Homo sapiens: one gene and its partner. The protein of the gene in region 2 interacts with the protein of the main gene of each other region in a pairwise test. Each region holds a gene or a part of one and is shown on either strand. Other genes may lie near its edges.

Region 1 (15,325 bases), on a different chromosome or scaffold from region 2:
TTACGGGGAACACGGCTCAGGGAGTTGGATTCCAGATTGCTTTTGAAGCCTTCCCCAGGTCACATCACACCGCTGTTCCCAGCCGTTCCAGGTCTTCCTGTTGACTGTAGGATCAAGTCCATTCCCCCAATCTGACCTCAGTCTACGTTTTTGGGCTCTTTGCCCACTAGTCTCCTAAATAAGTCCTCTGCGCCCCACAAACCAGTCTCCACCCAGCCTCCAGTGCTGCCAGCCTCCTCCACCCCCACCTGGAGCAGTGACATTCATGGATAGCTCCTCCAGCGGTCTCGAAAAATGAACATTTTAGGGTTCCACTTTTTGCTGTTGGTGTCCCCCTAATGCGAACATCCTGTCCTTGAGGGCTGATTCTTTTTACAATAGTTGTCCCAACGGGGGAAGTCATTTCACCTTTCTGACTTAGTTTCCTTATCTGCAAAATGGAGCCAGTAGTGTCTCATAGGGTACAGTGCCTGCACACACGCCCATCCACGGCTGTTCCAGGCCTTTCCTCCACTGCGGGGGGGTGCCAGGGGTCCAGAGGCGAGGAGGAGGGGGCCGCTGGACGCTGGGAAATTGGGAGGACCCCAAGATCCCTGTAGGGATCCACGGTAGAGGGGGAGGGCTTCTCTGTCCTCTCTATCCATTCGGACCTCCGCATTTCTAAGAACCAGCATCGCACCATGTCACTGAGAAAGAGCGCGCACACCAGCCGCCTTTTGAAAGTCACAAATAGATTCCTTCAGTGAATTCAGGACAGACTCCCCGGGGGCAGGTCCCGGGGCGGGAGCCGGTGTGGGTAGTGCTGCGCGGCCCTTAACTGTTTACCAGGCGCGTTTCGCTGACCTCGTCTCCTGGACCCCCTTTCGTGACCCCTCTCAACACCTCTACTGGGGAGACGAGGACCCCGAGGTTCTGGGGGGCGACGCGACCTGCCCGAAGTGACAAGGGTCCTGGGCCGCACTGCTCCGCCGGGGTCTGCGCTCCTCGGCGGAGCGGGTGGGAAGGATGAGTCCTCGGGGTGGAGAAGGAGGAGCGGGTCCCCGGGTACCGCTCACCCGGCCTTAGGAGCCCGGGAGCGCGCGTAGGGACGCGGAGTTGAGGCTCTCCATCTGCGGCCAGGGAAAGGGATACAGTCCCCCGGGCCCCTCCCGGCCGCTCGGAACCCACCCCAGGCGCGTCCCCGCGGGCGCGCGCTCCAGGCGGGGCCGACGGGCTCGGAGGCGCGCGCCCGCTGCCGGGTCCGCCGCGCGCGCTCCCTCCGCTCCTCTCCCCCGCCCCTCCCGGGCCCGCGCGCTCCCAGGGTCCGCCGCGCGCGCGCCTCGCGTCGCTCCCCATCCCCGCCCCTCCCGCCGCCACCCCGCCCCCGGCCGGGTACCCTCGCCGGACCCGAGAGAGAGCGCCGCCGCCATCTTAGTTGCTGCCGCTGCCTTCAGCAAGACGCTGCTCTGAGGCGGGGAGGGCGCCGCGTCCTGAGCGCGCGGCCCAGCGTCACGGCGGCGGCGGCGGCGGCTCCTCCTTGGACCCCCGGAGCTCCCCGCGCCGCGGAGCAGCTAGCCCCAGGCCCCTAGAGCCCCGAGAGCTCCGAGAGCTCCGCTCGGCGTCCCGCGCGCCTCCCTGCCGCTCCCGCCCCGGGCTGGCGATGCTGCGCCGCCCCGCTCCCGCGCTGGCCCCGGCCGCCCGGCTGCTGCTGGCCGGGCTGCTGTGCGGCGGCGGGGTCTGGGCCGCGCGAGGTAAGCCCCGGGGCTGGGCCGGGCCGCTGGGTCGGTGCGGGATTCGGGTCCGGGTGCAGGATTCGGGTCCCGGTGCGGGGATTCGGGTCCGGGTGCGGGAGTAGGGCCGGATGCCGGGATTCGAGCCGGGATGCGGGGAGTCGGGTCCGAGCGCAGGGAGCCGGGTCAGGGCGTGGGGTTCGGGTTGGGGGTCGGGCTCGCGGAGCCGGGGCCAGGGCGCAGGAGACTGTGGGCGCGCGCTGCAGGCGTCCCGGGGAAGCCAGGCTCCGTCCCGGGCGGGGCTCCTGAGCCTGGGCTGCCCCCACTGCAGCCCATGGTGGTGGCTGCGCTGATTTGGGGGAACGTGCAGACGGGCCGAAGGGTCAGTCCGCCCTGCTCAGCGGCGCACGCAGGCTGGGGCTGCACCCCTGGGTGAGATGCTCTGTGTACGTGTGCTCAGATGTGCATCAGGCGGGGGGTGCACGCACAGTTTTGGTGTGTGCTTACATAAGAGCCCACTCCTCCGCATCCCGTTTCCAAGATCCCGATTCTGTGTTGCTGCACCGCGGACACCACGACTTCGCCCCTTTCCGCCTCCTCCCAGAGTCCTTCAGACGTTGTCTGTTTCCAGTGGAGCCGAGGCTGAAACTTAGTGCTTCCCTCCCACCTTTTCACCCAAAGGTGAAATCGCGATGAGATTTGCGACCGCGGGCTCACCCAGTGTTAGAAATCTCCGTCTCTGCTACCCCTGGTGCCTTGGTGCTGTTTTTCTGACGGTCATTTAGACCGTGGAGGGTTAGATGTTCTCTACAAAAACGAGAAACCTCTCTGGTTTTTTAGGATTGTAGGACCGAAATTATTTTATGGCTCGGTGGGAAGTAGTATTTCTTGGCTAATTTATTATTAGCTTTTAACCTTCATCCACTTAACCTTTTAAACCTTGCATGCCTCTGCTATTGACTGGTCTTGCCAACGAAAAGCTTACGCATTGCAGATACAGTATTTGCTTCTGAGTGGATCTTGAAATCGTAAACATTTTCCTTGGCCTTAGAGCAGAGTAATCTAGGTGTAGTCTGTAGAATCTACTGTAGGCTTAAATCTGTTGTTCTGATTTTTTTTTAATCAAAAGAAATTTTGGGGAGGAGGATTGATAGAAATCTAGATGAAATGGTCATATTTGAATTTAGCAAGCTTTTTAAAAATTCTTATTTTCCCTTCCCTGGCGTGACATAAGGAGAGAAGTATGGTGTTCACGAATTAAAGGGCAGAGGCGGCAAATGCATCTTTTGTTCCATGTTCCTTTCTAAACATCGAGGATGATAAACTTTGAATACTTCTTTTATTTCATTTCTAACATTCTGTTGACTCTGTCAAATTCAGATCTTAGTCACTAAGTATCTCATTGCTGGCCATTTGATTTTTAAAAGTAACATCAAGCTAAGTTTGAAATGTTCTTTCCAGATGTGGGTTGGAGGTCTGAAACTCTAATATATCCAAGAGAAATGTCAAAAGTTTTGCTTCTCTTGGGGAAAACCCACACATTTTAAAAATATGTGCTTGGATTGGGTATTTTGGGAACAGTTTAAGTATATTTAGTCAGTGATACCATTTCTTGTTAAAATTGGTGCTTTCTTAAATAGCACCTACATTTGTTAGTCATTATTTAATTGCCTTGGTTACTTAAACAGCATACATTTCAACTTTGAATATCTTCATTACCTGAGACCGACAGAAATCTTGTGTGAAAGGTGTGTTGGCTAGTTGAGTCATTTGTAATTTGCTTTCTCTAAGTTTTTCTTGGTGCAGTTACAGTAGTTCAAGATTCTTAGTCTTCGGAATAAAGACATTTTACACATCAGTTATTCGTATGCATTTTTTTCAGGTTGCAAGTTAGAAAATGTCTTGGAATTACACGAAATGCTAATAAACAATTTCATTTTGAAATATTACAAGTGAATTTCATATGTAAATTTACAGTTTGGAGACACTCTGTGGGCTCGTTTTAAGAGATCATTTCAACTAATTGAATTTTTTACGGCTGTAAGGCAGTACGACATGAACTCCTGTTCATGCTGTAGCTACCTTTAATCATTGTTAATGTTAGATTACGTACAGACTGCTGCAGAAAATGATAGATTTTCTAATATAAATTGCATCTTGACTCTTAGTTTTGTAGAGACCCTCAAATTTTATTTTAATTATAGCTGTAGTTCTCAAAAAACATTGAGTAGAGCTGGGTGCAGTGGCTTGCGCCTGTAATCCCAGCACTTTGGGAGGCCGAGGCCAGCGGATCACCTGAGGTCAGGAGTTCGAGACCAGCCTGGCCAACATGGTGAAACCCCATCTCTGCTAACTATATAAAAATTAGCTGGGTGTACTGGTGGACGCCTGTAACTCCAGCTACTTGGGAGGCTGAGGCAGGAGAATTGCTTGAACCCAGGAGGCGGAGGTTGCAGTGAGCCGAGATTGCGCCACTGCACTCCAGCCTGGGTGACAAAGCAAGACTCCATCTTAAAAACAAATTCAGTAAGCCAAAATATTAGAAGAAATATCTTTGGCATGCCCTGGACGGTCATGTCCTTCAGCTACCTGCCTTCTTCATGGAGATCGGGAAATAGAACAGTGAAGCAGAGAAAATAGAAAGCTTATATGAATATTTAAAAAATGCAACCATGTAATGCATTTCGAAGCCACTTAATACATAAAATTCACTGTTACTTTTCCATTTGCACATAGGCTTAGTGAGACCTCCCCTCACCATCCTATTTGAAATAATTTCTCTTCCTGAACCCCTAAATCCTGTTTCCCTGCAACACTTTTTCTTTTTGCATAGCACTTAGCCCATTCTAACATGCCTTGTTGTTTACTTATTGAATTGTTTATCGTCTGTTTCCCCTCAGTAGAACATATGCCCCAAGATGGAAGGGTATCTGCTTTGCATATGTTTCCCGTCACCAGCACACCAGAGGCATGCCAGTATTGTGTGATTGAATGAATGAATGGGTGGATGGATAACAGCATTTCAGTTTAGACAGCGTAGTAGCTTTGCATCCTAATTTTCACTTTACAGATAAATGCTATATACTGAAAAAAATTACATAGTGTAAAGCAAACTTAAGTTTTTTTTTTGTTTGTTTTTGTTTTTGTGACAGAGTCTCATTCTGTCACCCAGGCTGGAGTGCAATGGCGCGATCTTGTCTCACTGCAACCTCCGCCTCCCGGGTTCAAGAGATTCTTCTGCCTCAGCCTCACCAGTAGCTGGGACTACAGGCATATGCCATCACACTGGGCTCATTTTTGTATTTTTAGTAGAGACAGGGTTTCACCATGTTGGCCAGGCTGGTCTGAACTTCTGACCTCAAGTGATCCGCCTGCCTCTGCCTCCCACAGTGCTGAGATTACAGGTGTGAGCCACTGCACCCGGCCCAAACTTAAATTCTGCAGTGTCGATATGGGAATTCATTAGTGGGTAAATTTTCAAGGATCATGGGGCCAGCCTCGGTGGCTCACCCCTGTAATTCCAGCACTTTGGGAGAACTAGGCAGGCAGATTGTTTGAGCCCAGGAGTTTGAGACTAGCCTGGGCAACATGGTGAAACCTTGTCACTACAAAAATACCAAAAAAAAAAAAAAAGTTCAAGGATCAATTCTGTTGGTTGCAGTATTGGGGATATTAGATCATGAAACTCTGTCTCAGCCTTTGAAGGCTGTAGCTCTGTGGCTACCCCTGTTAGTCCCTTTAAAAATACTATAATTTTCAGCTTTTTTGGGAAGATGGTTTCTTAATTTGTTACCTCGTTTTTTCAGAAGTAACGATGTGGAAAAAAGTCGTTCGAATATAGACCTCAGTATTACCCATAGTCTAACATTTTTAATACTGAAAGTAAATAACATTTATTTCTCAAAGGAGACCTATAACTGCTGAAGAAATAATAAAATACGAACAATTTTGAATATATTCCAATTTTAGAGCATTCACTCGGTTAACTGGAACCTTCAGTTAGCTGGAATTCGTCCTTTGGCTGGATATTTCTTTTGGGAGAAAAAGCATGAAACCAAGCAGTTTTATAGGAATTATTTTTCAAAAGGAAGGTTTAGGAGGTCATAACATACATTATCTGTGCCAGTATTTGATATTCAAGCCAAAAACGCAAATAATATTTCAGTTTTAGTTATGAAGAATATGACCAAAAAATGAAATTTTTGTGGGATATAAAATATTACATTGAAAATAGAAAATGCTGTAATTTCGTAACACTAGCTGCAGGACTTAGTGAAGCTTATTAAACCAAGTCTAAATGTTTAAAATGAGGAAGCTGAGATAGGTTAAAATTTTAGAACAAAGGAAAAAAAGTACTGAGTTATTTTTATTATTGCTTTCTGAGACAGGAAAGTATGTTTTTTAATTTTTTTGGGTAGTTTTCATTTATAAGAGTTGAAACAAAATAGAGATCTGATTATCCTAAAAAACCGCCAAGAGTCTATTTCTTATGTATTCTGGTTGAGGGCTTAGATCATTAAAACTTGTTTTTTTAGTGGGTCTTAATTTGGTGTGAAGACTTGCTTGAAGGGGCCGGGTGCGGTGGCTCACACCTGTAATCCCAGCATTTTGGGAGGCCAATGTGGGTGGATCACGAGGTCAGGAGATCAAGACCATCCTGGCTAACACGGTGAAACCCCATCTGTCTCTACTAAAAAAAAATACAAAAAATTAGCCAGGCGTGGTGGCAGGTGCCTGTAGTCCCAGCTATTCGGGAGGCTGAGGCAGGAGAATGGCGTGAACCCGGGAGGTGGAGCTTGCAGTGAGCCGAGATCGCGCCACTGCACTCCAGCCTGGGCGACAGAGTGAGACTCCGTCTCAAAAAAAAAAAAAAAAAAAAAAAAAAAGAGTTGCTTGAAGAAATATGTCTTTATAAGTGAAATTTAAAATGTTGATTTGCTACAAAATACGGATTTTAGTAGTGTTTCAGGACTACAGATTCAAGATTGGTGGAAATTATTTATGCAATGTCATGTTCGTGCATTAAAAAACAACCAAGGCCTGGCGCGGTGGCTCATGCCTGTAATCCCAGCACTTTGGGAGGCCAAGGTGGGTGGATCATGAGGTCAAGAGATGGAGACCATCCTGGCCAACATGATGAAACCCTGTCTCTACTAAAAATACAAAAATTAGCTGGGCATGGTGGCATGCATCTGTAGTCCCAGCTACTTGGGAGGCTGAGGCAAGAGAATTGCTTGAACTCGGGAGGCGGAGGTTGTAGTGAGCCGAGATCACACCGCCGCACTCCAGCCTGGCGACAGAGTGAGACTCAGTCTCAGGAAAAAACAAAAACAAAAACAAAAAAAAACCCAAACGGCCAGGCATGGTAGCTGACACCTGTAATCCCAGTGCTTTGGGAGGCCAAGATGGGTGAACTGCTTGAGTCCAGGAGTTCGAGACCAGCCTGTGCAACATGGTGAAACCCCATCTCTACTAAAAATACAAAACAATTAGCTGGGCATGGTGGCATATGCCTGTAGTCCCAGCTACTCAGGAGGCTGAGGCTGGAGAACTGATTGAGCCTGGCAGGTTGAGGCTGCAGTGAGCCAAGGTCACACCACTTGCATTCCAGCCTGAGCGACAGAGCAAGACTCTGTCTCTAAAAAAAAAAAAAAAAAAAAGCCAAACTAACAGACCCTCAAAAGTGACATTTTGAGGCTATGCAAAGGCCATATATAGGAACCCTTAAATGGCGACAGCCTCCCCACTGTGTCAGCCTGACATACAATACCCGTCTTTTCCCTAAGAGCTGCCACCACCCGGGAACTAGAATGCTGCTTTCAGTTGTCCCTGATTTGATAGGTTCTTTCTCTCCTATGTTTTAGGTATATTTTTGCTCATTTTTTGATTTAGCTTTAGGATATTATTATTAGATTAAAAATTTTCACAAGATCTGTTACTAAAGTTTTTATTTTTAAAGATTCTTGGCAGAGATTCACGTACTTCAAAGTAGCAGAGTTTAAAGCAGCTTAAATGCCTATAAAACATCTGAAAGTTGGCTGGGTGCAGTGGCTCACAACTGTAATCCCAGCACTTTGGGAGGCCGAGGCAGGCGGATCACCTTAGGTCAGGAGTTCGGGACCAGCCTGACCAACATGGAGAAACCCCATCTCTACTAAAAAATATAAAATTAGCCGGGTGTGGTGGCGCATGCCTGTAATCCCAGCTACTCGGGAGGCTGAGGCAGGAGAATTGCTTGAACCCAGGAGGTGGAGGTTGCGGTGAGCCGAGATGGTGCCATTGCACTCCAGCCTGGGCAACAAGAGCAAAACTCCGTCTCAAAAAAAGAAAAAAATCTGAAAGCTTCCTTCCCATTCCGGAACCCCAATAAGAAGTATGTGATAGCATATCAAAAGAAGAGTCATGTTTTTTCTTTTTTACTTCTTTGGTCAGACATGAATCATTATCTTAAAAAGAATTAATAGAAGTGGCGTCTCACTGTGTTGCTCAGGCTGGTCTCGAACTCCTGGACTCAATCAGTCCTCCCACCTCATCCTCTCAAAGAGCCGAGATTATAGGTATGAGCTACCGCACCTGGCCGAAGAATCATCTTTCAGCCATCTGTTTCGTTCTGTCTGATTCTCCCATGACAAGAACTTCTGTTGAGTCTGCTACTTTTCAAGCCTACCTTGATCTGTACTTTCTCTGAGTCATTGTGTAGGACAAAGGAGGACCACCGGCTGGGTGCGGTGGCTCACGTCTGTAATCCTAGCACTTCGGGAGGCCGAGGTGGGCGGATCATCTGAGGTTGGGAGAAAGAGACCAGCCTGACCAATGTGGAGAAACCCCATCTCTACTAAAAAATACAAAATTAGCTGGGCGTGGTGGCACATGCCTGTAATCCCAGCTACTTGGGAGGCTGAGGCAGGAGAATTGCTTGAACCCAGGGGGCGGAGGTTGCAGTGAGTCGAGATCACACCATTGCACTCCAGCCTGGGCAACAAGAGCAAAACTCCATCTCAAAAAAAAAGACCACTTTTGTCATGCCACTGCACTCCAGCCTGGGTGACAGAGCAAGACTTTGTCTCAAACAAACAAACAAAAAAACCCACCTTTTTCTGCATCCACTCCTTTTTTTTTTTTTTTTTAAAGCAGCTTTATTGAGGTATAGTTCACATACCATAAAATTCAACCTTTTAAGGCATACAATTCAGTGATTTTAGTATATTTACAAAGTTGCACAACCATCACCACTATCTAATTTCAGAACACTTTCATCACTCCCAAAAGAAATCCCATATCTGTTAGCAATCATTCTCCATCTCCCTCCTCCTCTCCTCCTCCCTTGGCAACCCCTAGTCTATTTTCTGTCTATGGATTTGCTTATTTTGGACATTTCACATCAATGGAATCATACGTGGCCTTTTGTGACTAGCTTCTTTTGCTTAATATGATGTCTTCAAGGTTCATCCATGTTGTAGCATGTATCAGGACTTCGTTTCTTTTCATAGGTAAATAATATATCCTTGTAGGGATATAACACATTCTGTTTATCCATTTATTCACTGATGGACATTTGGGTTATTTCCACTTTGTAGCTAATTTTGGAAAATATTACTATGAACATTTTTGTACAGGAATTTGTGTGGACATATGTTTTCATTTCTCTTGGGTGTATACCCAAGTGGAATTGTTGGGTCTTAGGGTAACTCTTAGATTTAACTTTTTAAATTAAAAAAATTTTTTTTTGAGGTAGAGTCTCACTCTGTCACCCAGGCTGGAGTGCAGTGATGTTATCTTGGCTCACTGCAGCCTCCGCCTCCTGGGTTCAAGAGATTCTCCTGCCTCAGCCTCCCGAGTAGCTGGGATTACAGGTGCCTGCCACCATGCCCGGCTGATTTTTGTATTTTTAGTAGAGACGGGGTTTCACCATGTTGGCCAGGCTGGTCTCCAACTCCTGACCTCAAGTGATCCAGCTGCTTTGGCCTTCCAAAGTGCCGGGATTACAGGCGTGAGCACTATGCCCGGCCTGTGTTTTTAACATTTTGAGGAACTACCAGTTGGTTGTACAAAGTGGCTGCACCATCCTGTATCCACTTGACCTCCATAGTCACTCACAGGAGCATTTTTCGAATCAAATACACATTTCACAGTTTTCTAGTTTGTTAGAATTTTAAGTTGAATTTTTCCTAGTCTAGGTGCAAACCGGCATTTCATCCAACCAATTCCTTCCTTTGCCATTGTCTCTCATATAATTTCTACTCTGGACTTTAGACTTTGAGTTGAAAGGAACTTTGAAAGTTCTTTCCTCTATACTTTAAATAGCCTTCCCTGTAAAACAGACATTTCCTCATATGTTCTTGTGTGTTGATCATTCAGCCTCTGTTTGAACTCTGCTGCTGTGGGGCTCTTGGTAGCTCACAGAGCAACCCTTTTCTTAAAAACATTGAGCCTTTGGTCAGCTTTCCTGAGGACTAAATTTTATCACGCCTTTGTATTTTTGCAGGCATCCAAGCCTACAGTCTGTTGTTTTTACCACCTCACACATTAAGAGAGACTGAGAGCACTGAGGCCTAGGCCTTGATTTCTGTAGATTTCTTAGGAAATCTGAGCCTAGCACAGGGCTACACATGCAGTGTTTGGGGGACAGCCACCCAGACACATGCAGAGTCAATATCCTGGTTCCAGGAGCAGGGCTTAACTTAATGAAAGGGACTGGAAAAAACACGAGAATTTTCAAACTACAACTAGTTTAGAAAAGTGACATTTTTCTTTTTTTTTTTTTGAGACAGGATCTTGCTCTGTTGCCCAGGCTGGAGTGCAGTGGCACAATCACAGCTCACTGCAGCCTCAACCTCCCTTGGCTTAAACTATCCTTCCACCTCAGCCTCCTGAGTAGGTGTGCACACCGCCATGCCTGGCTAATTTTAAAATTTTTGTAGAGACGGGATCTTCCTATGTTGCCCAGGCTGGTCTCGAACTTTTGGGCTCAAGCATTCTGCCCTTTTTGGCCCTCCAAAGTGCTGCGATTATAGGCGTGAGCCACCATGTCCAGCTGACATTTCTTCATTCATTACATTTTTGTTATGCTAGTTGGCTAAAAATGTGCTTTGTTAAAAAGTAAATTATTTTTTCTAGTCCTTTGATTTTATTTAACTATTCCTCAATTACCCAATCTTCAAACATATAAAATGCTTAGAAATATGTCTTTAGATTCAAAGTGAATTTTAAAACTCAGTAAAAATGAATATCTTCTTTGTTTACATACTTAAAGTATAGCAAAGAAATTTTTATTCAAGCTGGAGTGCAGTGGCACGATCTCAGCTCACTGCAATCTCCGTCCTCCCAAGGTTCAAGCGATCTGCCCATTTCAGCCCCCTGAATAGCTGGAACTACAGACACACACCACCATGCCTGGCTTTTTTTTTTTTTTTTTTGGTAGAGATGGGGTTTTACCATATTGCCCAGATTGGTCTCAAACTCCTGGACTCAAGCAATCTCCCTGCCTCAGCCTCCCAAAGTGCTAGGATTACAAGCATGAGCCACCATGCTCAGCCTAACATTTTTCTTTCTTTTTTTTTTTGAGACAGTGTCTCGCTCTGTCACCCAGGCTGGTGTGCAATGGCGTGATCTTGGCTCACTGCAAGCTCCTTCTCCCAGGTTCATGCCATTCTCCTGCCTCAGCCTCCTGAGTAGCTGGAACTACAGGTGCCTGCCACTGCGCCCGGCTAATTTTTTTTTGTATTTTTAGTAGAGACAGGGTTTCATCGTGTTAGCCAGGATGGTCTCGATCTCCTCACCTTGTGATCCTCCCGCCTTGGCCTCCCAAAGTGCTGGGATTACAGGTGCGAGCCACCGCGCCCAGCCAACATGTTTCTTATATAGTACTTTTGAGGACCACTTCAAAATAGTTGAATGTCATAAATTTAAATTGAAGAAATGTGAAACTTCAGAATGATTTGTATAAGGTTGTCTATTAAGTGGCTTTTAAAGGGTATAATGAATTCCATCTGAAATGCAGACTCTAGTCTCACTGAGTTTTGCATATTTCAGATGTAGTTAATGATGAAGATTGACAGGACTAGCTACATAATCCAAGGGGCCAATGCAAAACAAACTGTGGGGCCCCTTGTTCAAAAATTATTAAAAATGTTTTTCTTTTTCTTTCTTTCTTTTTTTTTTTTTTGAGACAGAGTCTTGCTGTATTGCCCAGGCTAGAGTGCAGAGGTATGATCTCAGCTCACTGCAACCTCCGCCTTCAGGGTGGAAGCAATTCTCGTGCCTCAGCTTCCCGAGTAGCTGGGATTACAGACATGCACCAGCAAGCCTGGTTAATTTTTTGTACTTTTAGTAGCGACAGGGTTTCACCAGGTTGCCCAGGACGGTCTTGAACTCCTGAGCTCAGGCAGTTCACCCGCCTCAGCCTCCCAAAGTGCTAGGATTACAGGCGTGAGCCACTGCATCTGTCCCAAAAATTATAAAAAATATCAAGATGGCAACAGGTTTTTCTTTTTGTTTATTAGACAGAGTCTTGCCCTGTCACCCAGGCTGGAGTGCAGTGGTGTACTCTCGGCTCACTGCAACCTCCACTTCCTGGGTTCAAGCGATTCTCATGCCTCAGCCTCCTGAGTAGCTGGGATTACTAGGCACCCGCCACCATGCCTGGCTAATTTTTGTATTTTTAGTAGAGATGGGGTTTCACCATGTTGGCCAGGCTGGTCTTGAGCTCCTGACCTCAAGTGATCCTCCCACCTCAGCCTCCCAGAGTGCTAGGATTATGGGCTGAGCTACCTCACCTGGTCAGCAATAGGTTTGTTTGTTTTTTTTTTTTTTTTTGAGATAGAGTTTCAGTCTTGTTGCCCAGGCTGCAATGCAATGGCGTGATCTCAGCTCACCACAACCTCCACCTCCTGGGTTCAAGTGATTCTCCTGCCTCAGCCTCCTGAGTAGCTGGAATTACAGGCATGCACCACAACTGGCCCGGCTAATTTTGTATTTTTAGTAGAGATGGGGTTTCTCCATGTTTGTCAGGCTGGTCTTGAACTCCCGACCTCAGGTGTTCTGCCCGCCTCGGCCTCCCAAAGTGCTGGGATTACAGGCATGAGCCACCGTGCCCAGCCAGCAATAGGTTTTTAAACCAACCCTGGGGCCCTTCTATGCCTGGCTCCTGGCACATGCAGGAAACTGGCCCTGAGTATTGATAAAACTAGATGACAGAGTATTAATAGTCAAATTGTGGGCCCAGGGCCTGAGATTTTCACCAGAGCTGCTTGTCCTCTGTGTCTCTTGTCAGCTGCATCTCTGGCCAATGCTCCTCCTTCCCCTTGGGAAAAGAGTCCTGCCTTTTATTCTAAGTGGCTTCAGGGTGCAAGTTTCCCCTTCATCTTTCCATCCTCAGCAACAAGCAAAGGATAGGCTCTACTCCGTTCTCAGTGGACAGTGAGAACCGATGGTAGACAGAGGCTCACAGAAGACTAGGGTTGTGTATGATCTGGGGGACTAAAGCCCTTCTGTTAAGCAGATTATGTTTACTCTTTTTTGTTTTTTTGAGACGGAGTCTTGCTCTGTTGCCCAGCCTGGAGTACAGTGGTGCGATCTCGGCTCACTGCAAGCTCTGCCTCCTGGGTTCAAGGTATTCACCTGCCTCAGCCTCCTGAGTAGTTGGGACTACAGGCATATGCCACCACGCCCAGCTAATTTTTTGTATTTTTAGTAGAGATGGGGTTTAACTGTGTTAGCCAGGATGGTCTCAGTCTCCTGACCTCATGATCCACCCACCTTAGCCTCCCAAAGTGCTGTGATTACAGGCGTGAGCCATCGCCCCTGGCCTATGTTTACTTTTAAAATGATTTGACTAATTGATGCTAGTTTCTTATTACTTACAGAATTAGTAAAAAGGATAACAAATCATTAAAATTCTTGGATAATCCCTACTCTTTTTTTTTTTTTTTTTGCCATGCATTTCAAGCATTTGTCAGAGTACTAAGTAAATAGTAAAACACACTGACTTGAATTTCATTTTCTCCTTAGGCCCTCTCACTCTGGGCTAAAATTATTAAAGGAACAGTGGGGGTGGGGAGTAACAGGTGGGGTACAGTCGTTTTGAGTTTTTGAGCCCCTCAGTTACTAGTGCCTTGTGACTAGTTGGAAGGGGACCTTGATAATCCTGACTGATTATAAAGCCCTAAGTTGGCAAGGTCAGAGCTTGCTTCTGAGCTGTCTGTAAATATCCATTGATACCAGCTCATGATTCCTGTAGAAAACATTTTCATTTGGCAAGGGTTTAAAAAGTCCATGCCCAAGTGTACGAGAGCCGCCTCTTGTTTACCTAGGAAGCAGCGAATACATGTCTTCTAAACATTCAGAGCCTTGAATAGAAAATAAATACTGGCTTAAATGCTTTTTTATATGAAATCTGACATGTTAAAACTTCTTCTAAATTGGAGTAAGTACCACTGGGATAGCTTCATAACATAGCCTTTCCCCTCCCTTCTGCTGACTTTAATAACAACTACGACATTACTGTTTGTTTGAATGAAATAATGTTTTAGGCCATTAATACCAGTGGTTAATATATATTTGCAGATTCATTTGGTAAAGTTTATTAACTTTGTCTTTTTCTAGACTTTTTCTGAGTGTTCTTAGAAGGTTTGGGCTTTTTAACTGCTACTTAAAGTAATGCATATGGCAGTGGGTCTGAACAGATTGTGTTGATTGCATTTTTCTTGTTGCATATAAAGTATATCATACATTGTTGTGAGGGTCCCAGGAGCAAGAGAATTGATCAGAGAACAGAGAGGAGAGAGGATCCGGAGGTATGTGGAATGAGGCATTCTAGGTAGATGTGGTCAACAGTTTAGATTTTATTTTTATTTATTTATTTATTTTTAATTTTATTTATTTATTTTTTGAGTTGGGGTCTCACTGTGTCGCCCAGGCTGGAGTGTAGTGGCGCAATCTCGGCTCACTGCAACCTCCGCCTCCCAGGTTCAAGAGATTCTCCTGCCTCAGCCTCCTGAGTAGCTGGGATTATAGGTGTACACCACCACACCTGGCTAATTTTTGTATTTTTAGTAGAGATGGGGTTTCACCATGTTGGCCAGCCTGGTCTCGAACTCCTGACTACAGGTGATCTATCTGCTGTGGCCTCCCAAAGTGCTGGGATTACAGGCGTGAGCTAGTGTCCCCAGTCTTTATTTATTTATTTTTGAGACAGAGTCTCATTCTGTTGCCCAGCCTGGAGTGCAGTGGCATGATCTTGGCTCTCTGCAACCTCTGCCTCCCGGCTTCAAGCAATTCTCCTGCCTCAGCCTCCCGAGTAGCTGGGATTACAGGTGTACACTCCCACACCTGACTAATTTTTGTATTTTTAGTAGAGATGGGGTTTCACCATGTTGGCCAGCCTGGTCTCGTACTCCTGACCTTAGATGATCCACCTGCCTCGGCCTCTCAAAGTTCTGGGATTAGAGGCGTGAGCCACCATACCCTGCCTGCCTGCCTGCTTGCCTGCCTTCCCTCCCTTCCTCCCCTCCTTCCCCTCCTTTCCTCCCTGCCTTCTCCCTTCCTTCCTTCCCTCTCTCCCTCCCTCCCTCCTTCCTTTCTCTCTCTCTCTCTCCCTCTCTTTCTCTCTCTTTCTC
Region 2 (15,325 bases):
CTTCTAAGGCCCTATGATGAGAAAGTCTAAGTAGGACTGACATCCTCCTAGCCCCACTACCCTTCTGACTGGTCAGTGCCAAGCCTAGGATTCACTATTTTGTTTTGTTTGTTGTCTGTTCGTTTTGAGAGTCTCACTCTGTTGCCCAGGGATGCCCTATCTGGGCTCACTGCAACCTCTGCCTCCCAGGTTCAAGCAATTCTCGTGCCTCAGTCTCCTGAGTAGCTGGGATTACAGGCGCGCACCATTACGCCCGGCTGATTTTTTGTATTTTTAGTAGAGGCGAGGTTTCAACATGTTGCCCAGGCTGGACTCGAACTCCTACCTCAAGTAATCCCCCTGCCTCGGCTTCCCAAAGTACTAGGATTACAGGCATGAGCCACCACACCCAGCTGGTATTCACTATTTTGAATATCACCCTTGATTTTCTAATACCTTCAGAATGTATTGTTTTAGGAGTTAAGATTCTAAGATTGCATGGATCTTTCTCCACATGTATAATAGTATCCTAACATAGTAAGGTTTGACAGTTTAGGGTTGGGCTTTCTAAGATTCTCGAGTTCTACATTTACAGTGTTTGAGATTCTAAGGTGCACCTGTGGTTCTAGGATAAGCCCATGGCTCTAAGATGATACATGGTTCTCAAGGATTCCATGGTTCTGAAACGATCTCTGGGCTCTAAGGTGATCCCAAGATTCTAGCATGAGCACATGCCTCTGAGGTGACCCCGTGGCTCTACAATGATCCCGTATCTCTAAGATAATTCATGGTTCTAAAGTGATCACTTGATTCTCAGGTAATCCCACGGCTCTAAGATGATCCTTGGTTCTAGGATGATCCTCTGGTTCTAAGATGATCTGTGTTTCTAAGGTGATCCTATGGCTCTAAGATGATCCATAGTTCTAGGATGATCCCATGGTTCTAAGGGGATCCCGTGGCTCTAAAATGATCAAGGGCTCTGAGATGATCCATGGCTCTAAGGTGATCACATGATTCTCAGATAATTCCATGGCTCTAAGATGATCCATGGTTCTAGGATAATCCCCTGGCTCTAAGATGATCCCTGGGTCTAAGGTGATCACATGATTCTTAGGTAATCCCATGGCTCTAAGATGAACCACGGATCTAGGATGATCCCCTGGCTCTAAGATGATCCATGGCTCTAAGATGATCACACGATTCTCAGATAATCCCATGGTTCTAGGCTGATCCCCTGGCTCTAAGATGATCCCTGCTTTTAAGGTGATTGCATGATTCTCAGGTAATCCCGTGGCTCTAAGATGATCCATGGATCTAGGATGATCCCCTGGCTCTAAGATGATCCATGGTTCTAAAGTAATCGCATGATTCTCAGGTAATCCCATGGCTCTAAGATGATCCATGGTTGTAGGATGATCCCCTGGCTCTGAGGTGATCCATGGTTCTAAGCCTGTAGGATCCCAAGACCCCTGGAGTGTCTGGGTAGCCCTGGATAGAGGAGGGGATACAGGAGGGACATGCAGGGTGTCTGCCCAGCAGAAAGCCTGGCTTTACCTGTTGTGGCAGGTGGTGGCCCTGGTGCTGGCGCTCCAGCACTGGCAAAAGATGAACTGATCTGTGTGCACAGAGCGTTGATGCTGTCACTGTCGCCGGCACCAGGAGGCTCCATCTCAGGCACTGGGAAGCAGGGCAGGACAGAGGTCAGCAAACAGGCCCAGACCCTGCCGCAGCCCCGCCCTCTACCCCCCGCCCTCGGTGGCCCTCTCTTCTGACCTGGATCCTTTCCCACTGTAGTAACTAAGTGGCCATGACCGCCAAATAACTGTGCATATGTGTGTGTCACATCTGAGCGGCAGAACGACTGAGTTAGTGTGTGACATTTGACGGCTGACAGTAACAGGGACCCCAAACCAAGGACCTCAAGATTTGTGTGTGGCCACAAACCAGAAGAGTTGTCTAAAACACTTAGCAACATATATTAGTTTAAAAATATGCCCAACCACGTGCATGGCAAGGACATGGGCCCAGTCTGAATGGGCTGTGGCATGGCCGCTCACTGGCTGGGGATCATTTGTCCAGCTTTGGGCAGAGAAGTGGGGTCCTGTCCACCCCACCCAGGCTGATCTATGGCAAACATCATGAGAGCAGAGATACACCTGTGCCAGCAAGGCAGGAGACACTGAGCAGGCATGGCGGCCCCGTGAGGGCTTGTGATGAGCAAAGGTACCATCCAAATAAACAATTAAGGACTCCCATGTGTGGTGTGTGACACATGTCTGTGATGTTTTAGCCAATGGCTGTCTCCAAGGGACCATGTAGATGCTCCAGTGAACATCAGAACTGGCCGTAGGAGTCTGCAGGTGTGCTGCGGGGGCGCCCGGGTGGGACAGCCAATGTCGACAATGATTGTGCATGTTCGTCCAAACAGGAATGCAGCTTCTGAGAGTGTGACTGGGGTCCGGGTGTGTGGCGTCCTGATGCGTGACTCCCAGGTGTGAGTGCATCTGCCGTGTGATGTATGAGTGTGTTTGCAGGTGTGCATGGATCTGCACATGTGGCTTTGGAGTTTGCATAAATCTGGGTGTGTGGTCTGTGAAGGTGTGTAAATCTGAGTGTGTTTCTTTTTTAAAAATATTTATTTATTTATTTTTGACACAGGGTCTCGCTCTGTTGCCCAGGCTGGAGTGTAGTGGCACAATCTTAGTTCACTGCAACCTCCGCCTCCCAGGCTCAAGCAATCTTCCTGAGTAGCTGGGACTACAGGTGCATGCCACTGCACCTGGTTAACAATAAAGGTTAATTTTTAAAATTTTTTTGTGGAGATGAGATCTTGCTGTGGTGCCCAGGCTGGTCTCAAACTCCTGAGCTCAAGTGATCCTCCTGCCTCAGCCTCCCAAAGTGCTGGGATTACAGGTGTGAGCCACCACGTCTGGCCATGTGTGACTTCTGACTCTGTGATTTTGGAGTGTGTGTGACTTGAGAGTATACCTGACTGTGAGTTTGTGACTTCTGAGCATGTGTGACATGTGTGTGGGGGGGTGCAATGTCTATGTGAGTATGTGAAATTTCTGTGTGGCAAGTCACATCCAAATAAGCGTGCAGCTGGCCACAGGAGTGTGAGGCTTCCAAATAAAGCCTGGAGCTCCTGCCACCTCTCAGGAGCACGTGTGACAGCCTGGGGAGTGTGCCTGATGTCAGGCTGCGTTAAGGACAGCAAATGTGAGGGTGTGTGATGGCCCAGGAATGCTGCAGGCATGGAGGGAGCGTGCGTCACTCTCAACAAGGGTTGGCATCTGCTCACCGGTTACCTTTTGGAGCAGCCCAGCCTCCTGGATACAGCTCAACACCCTCCCACATCAATCCCCGAGGACATAACGGGTAGGCGATGCAGATTTGGCATCCAGGAGCAAGAGAGTGGGCCAGACCACATGGGTTCACTGGCTGCTGGTGGGGAAGACAGCCCTTCTGCCTGCCTCCCTCAGGCAAAAACTCAGTAGCGTGCCACCTCTATCTTCCTTCCCTATGGCAGAGATTGCTCTTAATTTTTTTTTTTTTGAGACAGGTTCTCACTCTGTTGCCCAGGCTGGAGTGAAGTGGCGCAATCTTAGCTCACTGCAGCTGGGCTGAAGCAATTCTCCTTCCTCAGCCTCCTGAGTAGCTGAGACTACAGGCATGCGCCACCACACCAGGCTAGTTTTTGTATTTTTTTGTAGAGACAGGGTTTAGCCAAGTGATCTGCCTCAAGGGATCCTTGAGCCCCTCTTGGGCTCAAGTGATCTGCCTGCCTTGGCCTCCCAAAGTGCTGAGACCACAGGCATGAGCCACTGCACTTGGCTAGACATCACTTTTAGATCATGATGTACACCACCTGTCTCCTTTCCCTGGCCCATGGCAGACATTAGTAATCAAACACAATGCTTTTTTCCCCCACGGAGCTCTTTGCTCACCTTACCCGTCACCTGTCCAGACCTCATGGCTCCCCTGGCCAAGTGCTAGAAGAAACAGATCCTTGTAACTCCATCTTCCCTCCAAGTAAAACAGGACCTTTATATCTCCTCTCTCTTACCACCAGCCATGGCAGACAATGCCAATCAATTATGATGTGCTGCTCCTTTTCGTGATGGGTACTGCCTCTGCTCAACTCTGTGCCTACAACAAATGTTCCTGATCCATCACTATGCCCCTGACCCCTGGGATCTCTGAGCTCACTGGTGCCCTGCATGTCATGTTTCTACTGACCAAATTCTGGGAGTCTCCCCTTTGGGTAAAAACATAACACTCTTGCTACTCTTTCTTCTCCCTTGCCCATGACACACACTGCATGGAGATCATGACTGCTAACCGATCATGATGTGTGCCATCTTTCTCGTTTCCCTTAACCACAGCAGACATTGCTAATTGATCATGACTTGTGATGCCTTTTTTGCCATCCCTTGATGCTCCCTGCCCTAGGCAGACATTTCTAATCCATCACAATCCTCCTTTCCTCAGAGCCTGAGGAATACCTGTATCCTTCACCTAGCCAGATCTCATAGGTGAATGCTTGGAGGGAGGGAGCATTAACCTGTAGTGCTTCAGTCTACTCCTGAGCAAAAACAGGCCAATGGTGTTGCTTCTCTTCTTTCCCTGGCCCATGGCAAACTTCCTTATCCATGCCCGACTTCTTTGTCCATAGCCGACTTTGCTAACTAATCATGATGTGTGTCATCTTTCTCCTTTTCCTTAACCACACCAGACATTGCTAACTGATCATAACTTGTGATGCCTTTCTACTATCCCTTACTCAGAGCAGACACGGCTTATCAATCCTGATTTGTGCTATCTCTTTCCTCTCCCTTGCCCACTGCTAATCGATCATGACATGTTCCCACTCTCTCTCCTTTGCCCATGGCAGACAGTGCAAATCAATCACAGTGTGAACCATCTCGCCTCCATCCCTTGCCCACATCAGATAGTGCCAATTGATTCCAACGCCGTTTCCCACTGGGCCCAGGGCTCACCTGTGCCCTTCACCTGGAAGTCAGTGCGGCGCTGCAGCGTGGATGGCAGCTCATTCAGCCGTAGGCTCAGCTGCCGTTTGAAAGGCGAGTTCTTCTGGCTGAGTGCTGGGAACCCACGGAAGGAGCCCTGGCGAACCAGCTGCTCCAGGGGTGCATGGCGCCGGGGGATGGCGGCCGCAGTGGTGCCTGCAGCCACAGGGGTGCCTGCCTCACCCTTCTCACCAGGGGATGTGGTGGCTGGTGTCGGGGACACGTGCCCAGGCTGGGCAGGGCCAGGAGCCACAGTGGGGGCAGCTGCTGCCTCTGCTGGAGACATGGGGGAGATGGATGGTTAGATATCTCACCATGGCATGCAAGGCCTCTCCCACCTGGTTCTCTTGATCATTCTCCAAGGCTGCCTTCCTTGCCCAGTGAGTCCTGCCCTTAAGACAAGCTAGTCAAAGCCCTGAGATATCCCTCACCCCCACCCAAGTCATGATCCCCTTCCCCAGGAGGCTCTTGGAAAACCGTCCCCCAGGCTCACCCTCTGTGTCTCTCCAGCTTCCTGCCCCTTTCTGTCTTGCCCTGCTGCTCTCACCATTCTTCCCTCTAAGACCCTCTATCTCCCTTTTTGATCACTTAACAAACACTGATTTGGTGCTGGAACAACGTATCAGGCATTGTTCCAGATGCTTTTCAAGTATTCACTCATTCAATCCACACGACTACCCATGGGGTTGATATGATTCTCATTTTACAGATGTGGAAACTGAGACCCAGCAAAGGCCCAGTGTGATGTGCCCAAGTCCTACTGCTAGGAAGGGGCAGGCTGACTCTGGACCCCATGCTCCAAATGACTGCCCGCCCTGTCTCCCTCTGACCTGTCTCTCCATATCATGTTGTCTTTCTCTGTCACTGTCTGTTCCCCTCTGTCTCCCACCTCCCAGCCTTCTTCCCACCTCAAGTAGCTCCTCCCTTCCTCCAGTCATTCTAGACATGGCTTGGATGCTTCATCCTCTGAGAAGCTTTCCAGATTGTTCCAGGCTCTCAGCCTGGCTCCCTCCACTCTGAGACTGTTCTCTGTACTCTGGGAGGAAACCTGACCTCCCCACTCAGCAGGAGAGGCAGGCTCTTCAAGGGCAGGGCTGCCCTCACCCCTGCCAAACCACAAACACACATCTACCCTCCTACCAGGGCCTCCCCGAGCTGCAGCCTGAATGCCATGGAGATTAAACTCAGGCCCAGAGAGACCCTCCCATAAGGATGTCGCCCAGTGCTGCTTCTCCCATCGTGACACAATGGGGCACCCATGCAGGCCTGGCCCAAGGCAGTGGAAACAGCCCAGGACAGGTTGGAACCAGGAAACCTCCTCTGCCTCCACTCACTGTGTGACCTCAGGAAGTCCCCTCCCCTCTCTGGGCTCCAGTTTGCCAACTAGAAACCTGGGATAAACATCTCAGTGCTACCTCCCAAGCCTCTGAGAGGGTCAGTTTAGGTAGTGAATGTTAAATGTTTTGGAATCCAACAAAAGCATGCCTGGACACAGTGGTTCACGCCTGTAATCCCAGCACTTTGAGAGGCCAAGGTGGGGGGATCAGTTGAAGCCAGGAGTTCAAGACCAGCCTTGCCAACATGGTGAAACACCATCTCTACTAAAAATACAAAAAAAGATTAGCTGGGTGTGGTGGCACACGCCTGGGATTCCAGCTACTCTGGAGGCTGAGGCAGGAGAATCGCTTGAACCCGGGAGGCAGAGGTTGCAGTGAGCCGAGATCGCACCATTGCACTCCAGCCTGGGCAACAGAGCAAGACTCTGTCTCAAAAAAAAAAAAAAAAAAAAAAAAAAAACTTAGCTGGACGTGGTGGCGGGCACCTGTAATCCCAGCTACTCAGGAGGCTGAGGCACATAAATGTCTTGAAACCAGGAGGCAGAGGTTGCAGTGAGCTGAGATGGCACTACTGCATTCCAGCCTGGGTGACGGAGAGAGACTCTGTCTCAAAAAAAAGATGTTCTTTTTTTTCCCCTTACAATCCAGGATCTAATTCAGGATCACATCTCGCATCTATTAATACCTGTTAAACCTCATTAGTCTCCCTTAATCAGGATCAGTTCCCAATGGTAAATTCTTTGTAAATTCTAAGTAGTGTTTTCCCAAAGAACTTAAATTCACAGTAAAATAAATAAATAAATTAATTAATTAATAAATAAATTAATTATATGGTGACTCAGGACATACATACAATTATATTTTAAACACACACACACACACACACACACACACACACACACACAGAGTTTTAGAACTTACAAAGTATTTAACCATTTACCTAGAAAGTTAGTTTTACCAAGTATGTTTCAAACTTTCTTGATGGCAATCCAGAGTTAAGAGATATCTTTTATATGGTAGCCTCTTACACACGCGTGCACACACACACACACTCTCTCTCTCAAATAAAAGTATCATTAAATTATATTTAACCCTTATGCCATTCAATATACTCTGATATTTTCTATGATTCTCTATTTCATTGTTTTTAAATTAATTTTTTTTTTTTTGAGACAGGGTCTCACTCTGTCTGTCACCCAGGTTGGAGTGTGGTGGTGCAATCGCAGCTCTCTGCAGCCTCTACCTCCTGGGCCCAGGTGATCCTCCTGCCTCAGCCTCCTGAGGAGCTGGGACCACAGGTTGCACCACCACGCCTGGCTAATTTTTTAATGATTTGTAGAGACAGGGTTTCCCTATGTTGCCCAGGTTGATTTCATTTTTTTAAATGTCAGCCACATGGGCTGGGCCCAGTTGTCCACACCTATAATACCAGTGCTTTGGGAGGCTGAGGTGGGAGGATCGTTTGAGGCCAGGAGTTTGAGACCAGCCTGGGAAACACAGCAAGATCCCAGTTCTACAAAATATAAAAATAAAATTAGCCAGATGCTGTGGCTTGTGCCTATATTCCCAGCTACATGGAGGCTGAGGCAGGAGGATTACTTGAGCCCAGCAGTTTGAGGCTGCAGGGAGCTGTGATCGCACCACTGCACTCCAGCCTGGGCAACAGAATTAGACCTCAACTCAGACAACAAAACAAAACAAAAAATGCCAGCCACAGTACAGCAAATTGGCTTCCCAGGTCTTAATACACAGGTTGAAAAGCCCTGAGAAGGCCAGGCGCGGTGGCTCACCTGAGGTCAGGAGTTGAGGCCAACATGGTGAAACCCCATCTCTACTAAAAATACAAAAATTAGCCATGCCTGTAATCCTAACTACTCGGGAGGCTGAGGCAGAATTGCTTGAACCCGGGAGGTGGAGGTTGCAGTGAGCCTAGATCACACCATTGCACTCCAGCCTGGTTGACAGAGCGAGACTCCGTCTCAAAAAAAAAAAAAAACAAACAAAAAAAGAAAAGCCTCGAAAAGCCCCGAATTGGTGGATAGTAAACCACTTGGTGCGCCCTTAGAATATTGCCCAGAGAACTCTTTCCATGGAAGTTGCTTTATTTATTTATTTATTTTTTGAGACAGAGTCTCACTCTATTGCCCAGGCTGGAGTGCAGTGGCGTGATCTCGGCTCACTGCAACCTCTGCCTCCAGGGTTCCAGCGATCCTCCTGCCTCAGCCTCCCAAGTAGTTGGGATTACAGGCGTAGGCCACCATGCCCAGTTAATTTTTGTATTTTAGTAGAGACGAGGTTTTACCATGTCGCGCAGGCTGGTCTCAAACTTCTGACCTCAAGCGATCCGCCCATCTCGGCCTCTCAAAGTGCTGGGATTACAGGTGTGAACCATGGCGCTTGGCCTGAAGCATCCCCTACTTTGTAAACTGTTGAGTCTCTGCACCTCTGCAGCTCCCTGCCCCCTGATACTGGGTACCCTGTGCCCACTCTGTGCTCTGCTGGCGCTTGGGGCAACACCCACCTTTCTTCTTGTCCGGGGCCTCTCGCTCAGCAGGCCGCCCACCCCCAGACAGGCGGAAGGAGCCCTCGCGGGCGAAGCTGGTGCGGCTGGCATCGAAGGCGGCCGTGACCCCACATTCCTTCTCCCGTCGCTGTTTTCGCTCCAGGCAGGCGGCAAAAGCACAGCCCACAGCGTGGCTCAGCCTCTCGCCCTATGGGGAGAGGATGGGCGGGGGGGTTAGAGGCGCTGGGCAGTGCGGACAGGGGCCAGGGGCACTGGGTTATAGCCGCTAGGTACTGGGTTGCCCCGGATGAGTCTCTGCACTTCTCTGGGCCTCAGTGCTCATCTGCACCACAAGGAAGGGCTGGAAATGACAGCTCCAAGTGAGAGAAGCCAGAAACCAATGAGCCTGTTGTGTGGCTCCACTTACTGGAAATTCCAGAAGAGGCAAAACTAATCTATGGTTCTATGGTGAAAAAAAGTCAGAACAGGCCAGGAGTGGTGGCTCTCGCCTGTAATCCTAGCACTTTGGGAGGCTGAGGCGGGAGGTTCCCTTGAGCCCAGGAGGTCAAGGCTGCAAGCAGCTATGATGGGGCAACTGCACTCCAGCTTGGGTGACAGAGTGAGATTCTGTCTAAAAAAAAGTCAGAATAGTGGTAGTTTCCTATGGGGTGGGGAATGACTGGAAAGTGTATGAGGGGATGACCGGGTGGTGGCAATGTTCTAGATATTGATAGGGGTTTCGTTACATGGGTGTATGCAGTTGTCGAAATTCGTTGACTGTACACCAAAGGCTTGTGCATTGCTATAGACTAAACGTGTGTGTCTCTCTCAGTTCTAACGCTGAAGCCCTCATCCACAATGTGCTGGTATTTGGAGGTGGGCCTTTGAGAGACAATAAAAGTTATGTTAGATCATGAGGTGGGGTCCTCATGATGGAATTAATGCCCTTATTTATTTATTTTTTTTCTGGGACAGGGTCTTACTCTGATGCTATGCTGGAGTGCAGCGGCATGACCTCAGCTCACTGCAACCTCCACCTCCCGGCTTCAAGCGATTCTCCTGCCTCAGCCTCTCAAGTAGCTGGGATTATAGGCATGCGCCACCACACCTGGTTAATTTGTGTATTTTTAGTAGAGATGGGATTTCATGATGTTGGTGAGGCTGGACTCGAACTCCTGACCTCGAGTGATCTGCCCACCTGGGCCTCCCAAAGTGTTGGGGTTACAGGCGTGAGCCACCATGCCCGGCCGGGATTAATGCCCTTAAAAAGGAAAAAGAGACAAGAGATCTCCCCTCCACCTTGAGAGGTGAAGATACAGAAAGCAGGCATCCATCTGCAAACCAGGAAAAGAGCCCTCACCAAGAAATGAGCCATTTGACACCCTGACCTCAGGTATCCAGCCTCTAGAACTGCGGCAAACAAATGTTTGTCATTTAAGCCACACAGTCTACACTATCTGGTTATAGCAGCCTGAACTAAGACAATCATATCTTTCGCTTTGAAGAAAAAAAAAATCTGGAAACAAATACGAATTCTACTTAATGGTGTGCATGCTGAAGTAGTCCAATGCCTACAAATTTGACATACAAAAAGAATCAGACGGTGTGACTGCAGTCGCTCACACCTGTAATCCCAGGAGGCCGAGGCAGGCAAATCACTTGAGGCCAGGAGTTCGAGACCAGCCTGGCCAACATGGTGAAACCCCATCTCTACTAAAAATACAAAAATCTGCCAGGTGTGGTGGCGTGCACCTGTAATCCCAGCTACTAGGGAGGCTGTGGCAGGAGAATCACTTGAAGGTTGGAGGCGGAGGTTTCAGTGAGCCAAGATCGTGCCACTGTACTCCAGCCTGGGGCAACAGAGCGAGACTCCGTCTCAAAAAAAGGAATGAACCACTGATACAAGCAGCTCACGCCTGTAATCCGAGCACTTTGGGAGGCCAAGGTGACTGGATCGCTTGAGTCCAGGAGTTCGAGACCAGCCTGGGCAACATGGCGAAATCCCATCTCTACAAAAAATTAGCCAGGCATGGTGGCGTGTGCCTGTAGTCCTAGCTACTCAGGAAGCTGAGGTGGGAGAATCGCTTGAACCCAGGTTGCAGTGAGGCGAGATTGCACCACTGCACACCAGCCTTGATGACAGAGAGAGACGCTGTGTCATTAAATAAATTAATTAAAAACATTGCCGGGCAGGGTGGCTCACACCTATAATCCCAGCACTTTGGGAGGCAGAGGCAGGCGGATCACCTGAGGTCGGGAGTTCAAGACCAACCTGACCTGCATGGAGAAACCCCATCTCTACTAAAAATATAAAATTAGCCAGCTGTGATGGTGCATGTCTGTAATCCCAGCTACTTGGGAGACTGAGACAGGAGAATTGCTTGAACCCGGGAGGCAGAGGTTGCAGTGAGCTGAGATTGCTCCATTGCACTCCAGCCTGGGTAACAAGAGCGAAACTCTGTTTCAAAAACAAACAAAAACACAACATTACACTAAGTAAAGAAGCCAGACACATATTATATGATTCCATTAAATGAAATATCCAGAATAGGTAAATCCACAGAGAGACAAAGCAGATTAGTGGTTGCCAGGGGGCTGGGGTAGTGGGGAGACGGGGTGAATTGATGAATGGAGATGGGGTCTCCTTTAGCGGTGATGAAAATGTTTCAGGACTGCTAAAGTCAATGGTTAAACAACACTGAAAATGTATTAAATGCCATTGAATTGTACACTTTTAAATGATTAATTTTATGTGAATTTCACCTCAAGAAAAAAAAAAAGTTGAACTTGGGGAATTCTACTGCTTAATGGTTAAAACTTCCTTCAGAAGTAGGAAGGAATTCATCCAACATCACATTCTTTACCCACAGGAGATGGTCCTGCTCTTTTCTGGCTTTCATTCTCATCCCCAAATAGTTTTTTTTTTTTGTTTTCTTGAGACAGAGTCTCGCTCTGTCACCCAGGCTGGAGTGCAGTGGTGCAGTCTTGGCTCACTGCAACCTCCGTCTCCAGGGTTCATGTGATTCTCCCCACATGTGATTCTCCTACCTCAGCCTCTGGAGTAGCTGGGATCACAGGCGCCTGCCACCATGCCTGTCTACTTTTTTTGTATTTTTAGTAGAGATGGGGTTTTACCAGGTTGGCCAGGCTGGTCTCAAATTCCTGACCTCAGGTGATCTGCCTGCCTTGGCCTCCCAAAGTGTTGGGATTACAGGCGTGAGCCACCACGCCTGGCCAATACTCTTTTTTTTTTGAGATGGAGTCTCACTCTGTCTCCCAGGCTGGAGTGCAGTGGTGCAATTTTGGCTCACTGCAACCTCCACCTCCCGGGCTCAAGTGATTCTCCTGCCTCAGCCTCCCAAGTAGCTGGGACTACAGGTGTGCACCACCACACCTAGCTAATTTTTTGTATTTCAGTAGAGATGGGGTTTTACCATGTTGTCCAGGGTGGTCTTGAACTCCTGAGCTCAGGCAATCCCCCCGCCCCAGCATCCCAAAGTGCTGGGATTACAGGTGTGAGCCACTGCACCCGGCCCTCACGTGAATACTCTAAATTGGGAACCGTGAGTATACTTTCTTCTCCAGATGAGGAAACTGGGCACACAGAGGTTAGTGATGTGCCTGAATGCAGGAAGCTTGTAGGGGTGGGGCTGGGATGCCAGGGCATGGGAGGGAAGAGTTGGCCAGCTGTGGCAATACTCACGGAGTCCTTCAGTGCCAGAAAACAGTGGCAGATCCAGCGGCGGGTAGTCCCGTCACGACAGATATAGGAGAAAGCCTTGTCCAGGTTGCGGTCAGGAGCACAAAAGGAGACCTTTTCGATGGTCTGGTCGACCAGAAGATCCTAGGAGGGGCCGGGGAGGCCAGGAGAAGAGTGTGAACTCTCTTTCAAGTGTTCACTCAACATTCTCTCTGTGTCTGCTGAAATCCAGTCCTGAACAGGGTGGGGACCCAGCAGTCACTGAGACACCCTGTGCCTTGCCTGCAGAGGGCTCCCAGGTCAGCGGGAAGATCAGACCCATCACGAGATGGGCAGCCCAGAGTCATAGCCAGGATGTGATGAAGGAGGCCCAGGCAGAGGGGTCAGGGCCAGGACCATGGAGGCACAGGCAGAGGGGTCAGGGCCAGCATGGCAGAAGCCAGCTTGGGGTCAGTCAGGCAAGGCTTCCTGGAGCAGGTACTAACTAAGAAAAAAAGTCAAGGAACAGTATTTTGGGCTGAGGGAACTGCCTTGCAAAGGTGGTGATCTTGTTCTGTTATTAACCCAACTCTCAGCATGTCCTGGGCACCTCCTAGGGCAGTCTCTGGGCTGGGGGCAGCAGATTCAAGGTGAGCAAACAGATACCTAGATTGTGGCCTCATAGTGCTTCCTTCTGACTGGGCAGGGTGACAATAAACACTTAATGGCTAACATTCATTGATCTGAGCAGTTACGATGTACTAGACCCCATTTAAATATATATATATATTTTTTTCCCAGAAGGAGTCTTGCTCTGTCACCCAGGCTAGAGTGCAGTGGCATGATCTTGGCTTACTGAAACCTCTGCCTCCTGGGTTCAAGTGATTCTCCTACCTAAGCCTCCCAAGTAGCTGGGATTACAGGCACGCACCACCACGTCTGGCTAATTTTTGTATTTTTAGTAGAGGTGGGGTTTCACCATCTTGGCCAGGCTAGTCTCGAACTCGTGACCTCAGGTGATCCAACTGCCCTGGCCTCCCAAAGTGCTGGGATTACAGGCGTGAGCCACCGTGCCCAGCCCACATTTAAATTTTTTTAAAAATTATTTTGTATAGATGGAGCCTTGCTATGTTTCACAGGCTGATCTTGAACTCCTGGCTTCAAGGGGCCCTCCCAGCCAGGCACCATTTCAAATAACTTGCATATGCTTTCTCACTTAATGGTAGGGTCTATTATAATCCCTGTTTTTCTGCGATGGAGTTTAGCTCTTGTTGCCCAGGCTGGAGTGCAATGGCATGATCTCCGCTCACCGCAACCTCCAAGTCTCGGGTTCAAGAGATTCTCCTGCCTCAGCCTCCCAAGTAGCTAGGATTACAGGTACACACCACCATGTCCAGCTAATTTTTGTATTTTTAGTGAGATGAGGTTTCACCATATTGCCAGGCTGGTCTCGAACTCCTGACCTCAGGTAATCTACCCTCCTTGGCCTCCCAAAGTACTGGGATTACAGGCGTGAGCCACCACTCCCGGCCTATAATCTGCATTTTTCAGATGACACAACTGAGACTCAGAGAGGTTAAATCTCATGCCCAGGGTCCCTAAGCTGGGATCGGAGCTGAGGCAGCTGCTCCAGTCTCTCTCACCCACAGCCTATGCCAGTTCCCAAATAATCACAGCATTTATTCCTGAGTTATGACGACAGAGGGAGCACACGGCATCGTCTAGAAGGTCCCTGAGGGAGGGATGTGCAGAGGAGGCGGGAAGGTGTCCTCCGCCCTGATTCCAGCAGGGTGAGCAGACAGGCCCCCTGGCGTCCACCCCCACAGGCCTCCTACCTTGGTTTTGTCGTCCACCACTCGGAGCCCATCGGCTGACACCCACAGGACAGACTTCACGGACTTTCGGCCCATCTGGAGGGAGGCAAGGGGACAAAGGAGCCGGGTCAGGGTGCCTCTCCCTGTCTGACCTTGCCCCCTCCCTCATGGCAGCCCCCTCACTCACCGCCTTCAGCTTCTTCACCGCATCTTCACACACGTGCATTCCCCGGGACTCCTCTACCTCCACGTGACCCAGGTACTTGGGTTGGAGGGAATGGGGGGGGGGACATGAAACAGCACAGTAATCACTCATTCTCAGTGTCCACTGAGCATCTGCCATGCAGTAGACAATATTTTAAGCACATGATGTGTATGCAATCATTTATTCTGCATCTCAACTCTACAAGGTGGAGACCCCATTCCTGGTCTAGACATGCAGATGGGGAAACTGAAGCACAGCACGTAGTAGTGATTCCAGTCTAGCTATACCCCTGGGCCCTAACCCGGCACCGTGGTCCTCCCGAGAGCTAGTATTTGCATCTCTGTGCGTGAGGACTGGCCACAGGCCATGCAAAGCTGCTTTGCCTACCCTAAAGCAGCTAGAAAGAGCCTGGGCCAGTCCCCACAATGACTGAAGGGAGTTAGGGTACCTGAGCCCCAGCTCCCTCATCTGCAGGTGGGATGACTGTTGCCTCGAGTTTCCCAGGGGAAAGCTCAGTTGCACACTGCTGCAGTTTTAATAACACACCCTTTACTGGCTGCCTTACTTTCCTCACTCCCAACACCATTTCCTGCACCTCCCAAATGAAGCCGTCACATTCAAAGTCTGCTTCCAGGGAAGGGAACGTAAGGTGGTGGAGGGGCTGTGACCATGGTCAGTCATCACCCAGCCAGGAAGGGGCTGAGCTCCACAGTCCACGCCGTGAATCCTGCTCTCCCCCTCACAGGAATGTAAAAGCGTAGGGTATGGCTAAACCAGA

The links.
Region 1: the proteins of NUMBL (region 2) and CLSTN1 interact in binary tests that used the Homo sapiens proteins (3 or more experiments, as listed by UniProt).

Annotation. Positions count from the first base shown.
Region 1 is NC_000001.11:9,810,048-9,825,372, reverse strand, and holds the start of CLSTN1 (calsyntenin-1 isoform 1 precursor), read left to right. Parts: upstream 1-1,407; 5' UTR 1,408-1,639; coding exon 1,640-1,730; intron 1,731-15,325. UniProt on the Homo sapiens protein: Postsynaptic adhesion molecule that binds to presynaptic neurexins to mediate both excitatory and inhibitory synapse formation.
Region 2 is NC_000019.10:40,668,365-40,683,689, forward strand, and holds part of NUMBL (numb-like protein), read right to left. Parts: intron 14,605-15,325; coding exon 14,530-14,604; intron 14,439-14,529; coding exon 14,364-14,438; intron 12,694-14,363; coding exon 12,553-12,693; intron 9,058-12,552; coding exon 8,868-9,057; intron 5,286-8,867; coding exon 4,980-5,285; intron 1,657-4,979; coding exon 1,534-1,656; intron 1-1,533. UniProt on the Homo sapiens protein: Plays a role in the process of neurogenesis. Required throughout embryonic neurogenesis to maintain neural progenitor cells, also called radial glial cells (RGCs), by allowing their daughter cells to choose progenitor over neuronal cell fate.